2 separate regions of the Homo sapiens genome follow, and region 2 is linked to region 1. A link means that fine-mapping ties the variant in region 1 to the expression of a gene that starts in the linked region. Tissue or cell type: whole blood. Region 1 holds a variant in brackets; the other region holds the start of a gene. All regions are shown on one strand. Distances are from middle to middle.

What was found. PIP is the estimated chance that this variant, and not a neighbour inherited with it, causes the effect.
Region 2: CYP4F12 starts here. The variant in region 1 is fine-mapped to the expression of CYP4F12 in whole blood (INTERVAL, PIP 0.94).

Annotation. Positions count from the first base shown.
Region 1 is chr19:15,833,944-15,836,627 of GRCh38, reverse strand. LOC124900418 (collagen alpha-1(I) chain-like) reads right to left here. Exons shown (of 3, transcript XM_047439793.1): 3 at 1-1,410. The coding sequence starts at 226. UCA1 (urothelial cancer associated 1) reads right to left here. Exons shown (of 3, transcript NR_015379.3): 3 at 307-2,126. Among named protein-coding and RNA genes, the nearest start is that of UCA1, 6.3 kb to the right of the region's middle. RefSeq lists a silencer at 1-60 and an enhancer at 491-1,690. The variant G/A (reference allele first, on the strand shown) is at 1,038.
Region 2 is chr19:15,672,077-15,674,760 of GRCh38, reverse strand. It overlaps CYP4F12 (cytochrome P450 family 4 subfamily F member 12), which reads right to left and starts at 1,674. Exons shown (of 13, transcript NM_023944.4): 1 at 1,626-1,674; 2 at 1,034-1,232. The coding sequence starts at 1,231.

The DNA.
Region 1 (2,684 bases):
GCCTGGGGATCCTGTGGGAGGAGCCATGGCCTGTGGGCTCCCCAGTCCCGCCTTTCCCCCCGAAGGCGGCCCCCGCTTCTCCCTGAGTCTTCCAAAAGGTGTGCGAAGCCGGGTCTCCGCGACCCGGTCCCCCAGCCTCGCTCCCCCTTGGGCTGGCCGTAAATCTTGTAATGAACGTTTCCCTCCCCGCATTCTCTAACGCCAGCGTCTCCACTGCAATCCACATGGTTCTCAACTGTTAGTCCCTTTGTTGTACGTTTCAAATCGACGTGGCATTTAAATGATCATCGTTCCACAGAGCAGTGGCTGACTCTTTTAGGAAGATTTCTTTTCTGTCACCTTTTCACATATAAGGAAAGGAAAGGAAAACCACATGAAACGCCTCTGTTTACAAAAGCCTTTGTGCCGCTACTTTTATCTTAGACACCTCATCAGACTGCCTTTGGGTTGAGGTTCCTGTCACGCGTGTCCGTATAGAAGACACCCAATCAGGCTTTGTGTGAGCAACAAGGCTGTTAATTCACTTGGGTGCAAGTGGGCTGAGTCCGAAAAGAGAGTCAGTGAAGGGAGATAGGAGAGGGGCAGCTTTATAGGGCTTGGGTAGGCGTGGAAAGTTACAGTTAAAGGTGGTTATCCTCAGCAGAGGAGGGGGTCACAAGGTGCATGGTGGAGAGATGATGGGACTCATTGTCCAGGAGAAGAATGTCACAGGGTTGATTGATCAGTTGGGGCAGGGCAGGAACAAGTCATAATGGTGGACAAGTCATAATGGTGGAATGTCGTAAGGTGGGTTAATTAGTTAAGGCAGGAACTGGCTGTTTCACTTCTTTGTGGTTTTTCGGCTGCTCCAGACTTCTTGGCTCCTGCAGGCCACCTGGACGGATATGTGCAGGTCACAGGGGTTACAATGGCTAAGCTTCAGCTCACAGGCCTGACATTTTTGTCTTTTTATTTATAAAATATGAAGTTGTAGGAAAAGATTAAAAAAAAGTGTAAGTTCCTTCTGGGGATTACTGGGGTAGGGCTGATATTTCTCC[G/A]GACTGCTTCAAGTGTGACCAGGGACTGCGTGGACACCTTAAAGAAAATTTTATAATGAGTCTAGTAAGTTTCGGGTCTAGGGTGCATTTTTATGTAGCTAACAAGGTGCCAGTTAGCGTATTTTTGAGCTTGGAACTGCCCTAATAAAATAAGTTCTCTAAAAACAGTAATCAGGCATATTAGCTTTAATGTAGGTGGCGATGAGTTTTTAGGCCAAGGAAGGAATAATGTTTTATGTACCAAAGCCTTTTGTCCCCATTTTCCATCATACGAATAGTATTCCCTGTTGCTAAGCCGATGATACATTACCCTTTTCCCATAGGTGTGAGTGGCGGTCTGAATGGAGAAGTTCAATAGTTCTGATTGCAGATCCTATGCAGAAGAGATAATAAGGAAAATAATCTTTGTCTCCTGGATTAAGCTGAGGCTGGCAAAGAGTGAAATGTCCCAAGCCCTCTAACAACAAACAACATACTTTGTGTTGTCCTGGATGCTGGTCTGGTTGCCAAATATGTGGAACTGGCCCCATATGCGTGTACTGTTGTCCATTTCATGAGAGTAGGCTTGAGGACACCATGGGCAAGGATCTGATGGTTGCCAGCCTAAGCGTTTTAGACTTTTGACCCAGAGATTTTTTGTTTTGGGTGTGGAAAAAATTTTAGAGGATAGGGTCTCAAGATATAATCCTTTTTATAGGCGGCAGGTCTTAAGAGATGAGGGTCCAGAGGAACGGATGAAGCCTGCTTGGAAGCATGCTGGGATGGCCATTTGGAAGGAGTGTTGCAAGGAAGCATGGCCTTGGCTGGGCGCTGCCAGGAGCTTAAGGGTTGTAGGTTGTTTGTCTGATCGGCTCTCGGCCTAATCTTGTGGCTTCCAGGAGGAAGAGGAGAGATCAAGCTGGCTGTCTGATGGGCATGGCTTTATTCTGGAATGGTGAACCCAATGGAGAGGGTCCTGCAGATGGACGGCAGTTGGTGTGCTATAAATGACCGGGTAGGGTCTGGTCCATTGAGGCTGTAGAGTTTGAGGGGTCAGACTTTTGACAAGGACTGATCGTCCAGCTAGGGTGTCTTCATATGGCTGGGAATCTGGAGTAGGCAAGAGAAGATTAGCAGCTTGGCAAATTTCCTGTCTAGCCTGCTAGAGGACTGGAAGATAGTTGCCCAGGGGGCTGGTGTCTGGAACAAGATTGTGGCTGAGTAAGAAGGTGCATCCATATAAAATTGAAATGGGTTGTACCCTGTGGCTTCTCAAGGACAGGCCCTAATTCTGAGGAGGGCAAGTGGTAAAAGTACTGTCCAGTCCTTTTTAAGTTGGAGGCTGAGCTTGGTGAGGTGTGTTTTTAAAAGACCATTCATCCGTTCTACCTTTCCTGAAGATTGAGGACGGTAGGGGGTATGAAGTTTCCACTGAATACCAAGAGCCTGAGAAACTGTGGAAGTAGGGAGGCCAAATTGGGGGATTATATCTGTCAGAAGGGAAGAAATGACTGTAGTAGCCTTTCAGAGCTAGTGGGAAAGGCCTCGACCCATCCGGTGAAGGTATTGGCCCAAACCAGGAGATATTTAAATTTACAGACACGCGGCATATGAATAAAGTCAATTTGCCAATCTTGTGTCGGAGGAAATCCATGAGCCTGATGCGTA
Region 2 (2,684 bases), 160 kb after region 1:
GCATGGAACTGCAGAGGAATGAATGAATGAGGAAAGGAATGAGTCGGTGGGTAGAGGAATCAGTGAATGAGGAGAGGAATGAGTGAGTGAGGAGAGGAATGAGTGAGTGGGGAGAGCAAAAAGTGAGTGGATAGAGGAATAAGTGAATGGGTAGAGGAATGAGTGAGTGGGCAGAGGAATGAGTGAGTGATGAGGGGAAGGAGTGAATGAGGAGAGGAATGAGTGAGCAGAGGAATGAGTGAGTGAGCAGACGAATAAGAGTGAGGAGAGGAATGAGTGAGTGAGGAGAGGAATGAGTGAATGAGAGGAATGCGCGAATGAGAGGAATGCGCGAGTGAGGAGAGGAATGAGTGAGTGAGGAGAGGAATGAGTGAGTGGGTAGAGGAATGAGTGAGTGAGGAGAGGAATGAGTGAGTGGGTAGAGGAATGAGTGAGTGAGGAGAGGAATGAGTGAGGAGGGGAATGAGTGAGTGAGGAGAGGAATGAGTGAGTGAGGAGGGCAATGTGTGAGTGGGTAGAGGAGTGAGTGAGTGGGTAGAGGATTGAGTGAGTGGGTAGAGGAGTGAGTGAGTGGGTAGAGGAATGAGTGAGTGAGGAGAGGAATGAGTGAGTGAGGAGAGGAATGAGTGAGTGAGGAGAGGAGTGAGTGAGTGAGGAAAGGAGTGAGTGAGTGGGTAGAGGAATGAGTGAGTGAGGAGAGGAATGAGTGAGTGAGGAGAGGAGTGAGTGAGTGGGTAGAGGAGTGAGTGAGTGGGTAGAGGAGTGAGTGGGTAGAGGAATGAGTGAGTGGGTAGAGGAATGAGTGAGTGGGTAGAGGAGTGAGTGAGTGGGTAGAGGAGTGAGTGAGTGGGTAGAGGAGTGAGTGGGTAGAGGAATGAGTGAGTTAGCAGAGGAATGAGTGAGCCATCTCTCTTGCTTCTCTGGGGTCGCAGACCCCAGCCACCATCAATACCTAGCTCACTGAGCCCCATTCCTGCTCCTCTGGAAGTCCATCCACCCTGAGACCCCAGACACATTTTGCTGTCACACTCACCAGGCCCAGGTGACCCCAAAACCAGTTCCGTTTTGGGGGCTGTGGGAAACACTGGAGCCGGCGGCAGTTGTTATAGAAGGCATAGGTCCAAGCCAGGATGCGGGCGAGTAGCCAGGAGCCCACAACCAGCAGCAGGAGTAGCCATGGGGACGTTGCCACCGGTCTGAGGCCCAGCCAGGGCAGGCTCAGCAGCGACATCCTGCAGGGCAGAGGGGATGCAGGGTGAGGACCTGAGGCCCAGGGAAGAGCTCCGGGGACAGTGTATAGGGGCGAAGTCAGGAACTGCTGGGGGCAGGGCAGGGAGGGCTCAGGGGTGAGTAAACGAGGGCTGAGATCTGAAGTCCAGAAAGTCCCAACCAAAACCAACAACTAAGTGGCCTCCAGTAACCTGGTAACCACACAGAAAGGGAAAGAGATGGGCCGATTAGAGTCCAGAAGGGCCCCACCTGAATCCTTGGGAGTTTGCTAGGAGTCCAGTTACCAGGAAACCCCCAGTTTCCCATGCCAGCATCTTGGAGCCACCCCAGCCTTAGGCAGTCCCCTCTTCATCCCAGGCCAGGACCTTCCAGCCCTGCCACCCCCAGCCTGGTACCTTCTGTCGGGAGCAGCTTGTCCCACACAACCTCTTCTCCTCTTCTGCTGGGAGGTCTTTGGCCCTGGCCCCTGATCTAGGGAAGGCCGTAGGAGGCGGGGCTGGGCTGGGCTGGGCTGAGGCAGCCAATCCCCACAGCCTGGGTGTGTCTTCCGTGCCTGGGCAGCCAGCCAAAACCTGGGGTTGGGCCCACTGGGTGCAGCTCAGGGTGCCCCAGCACGAGCACTGAATTCTCAGGTCTCAGTACCTTCTTGGGAGTTTGCAGGGGAAGTTGGAGGGTGGTTAGAGGGGACTCTGAACCCCAAGTTTACCTCCACCCTGCCCTTCCAAGACAAGGGTGTTCAGATAAAAGCATATACTTATCATGACAGTTGGCAGCCAGCTGAGCTGGGCCAGGCCAACCCTTGTCCCAGATCATCTGGGCTCCTCTCCAAACATGGGCGGGGAGGATGTCAGGCACTACATCTTGGTGCAGACTTAGGAGATTCAGAGACAGAAGCCTCTCATCTCTGGCTTCACAGCCTGGCAAGAGTTCAAGTCCTGCCTCCTGGCAGCCCAGGGCCTGAGTTGAGGCCTGACTGCTTGAAGCAGGAAGAAAGAATCCAGCCCCAACCCCGCTGAGGATTACCTTCGTCAGATTCTGGGGATAAAGAGCCCAGCTGGAGGAGCAAACCTAGAAGCTGGGCTCAGCTTAGGAGGACAGAGCGGAGGCACAGGGGATGAGGCTGAGAGGGGCCTTGAGCTGACGGGGTCCAGGCAGGGGAGGGCAGAGCAAGGGGATCCCGAGTGGAGTCCTTGTTCTGCCCTGTCCTTTCTCTGACTGTGGGCAGTGTGGCCATCCTGGGCTCAGGCTTCCCATCTGGGAAATGGGATGTCAGATGAGGCCTTAGAGGGCGACGGAGGAAGGCTCCTAAGAAAAGGGAGCTCCAAAAAGAGGGACTGAAGGGAAGGGGATGACAACTAGCACTTGAGCTGCTGTGTGCCTGTCTCTACTCCATGCGAAAGACTGTACGGAAAGCACTACTGTGTGCACCTACTGTGTGCCAGTTTCACTATATA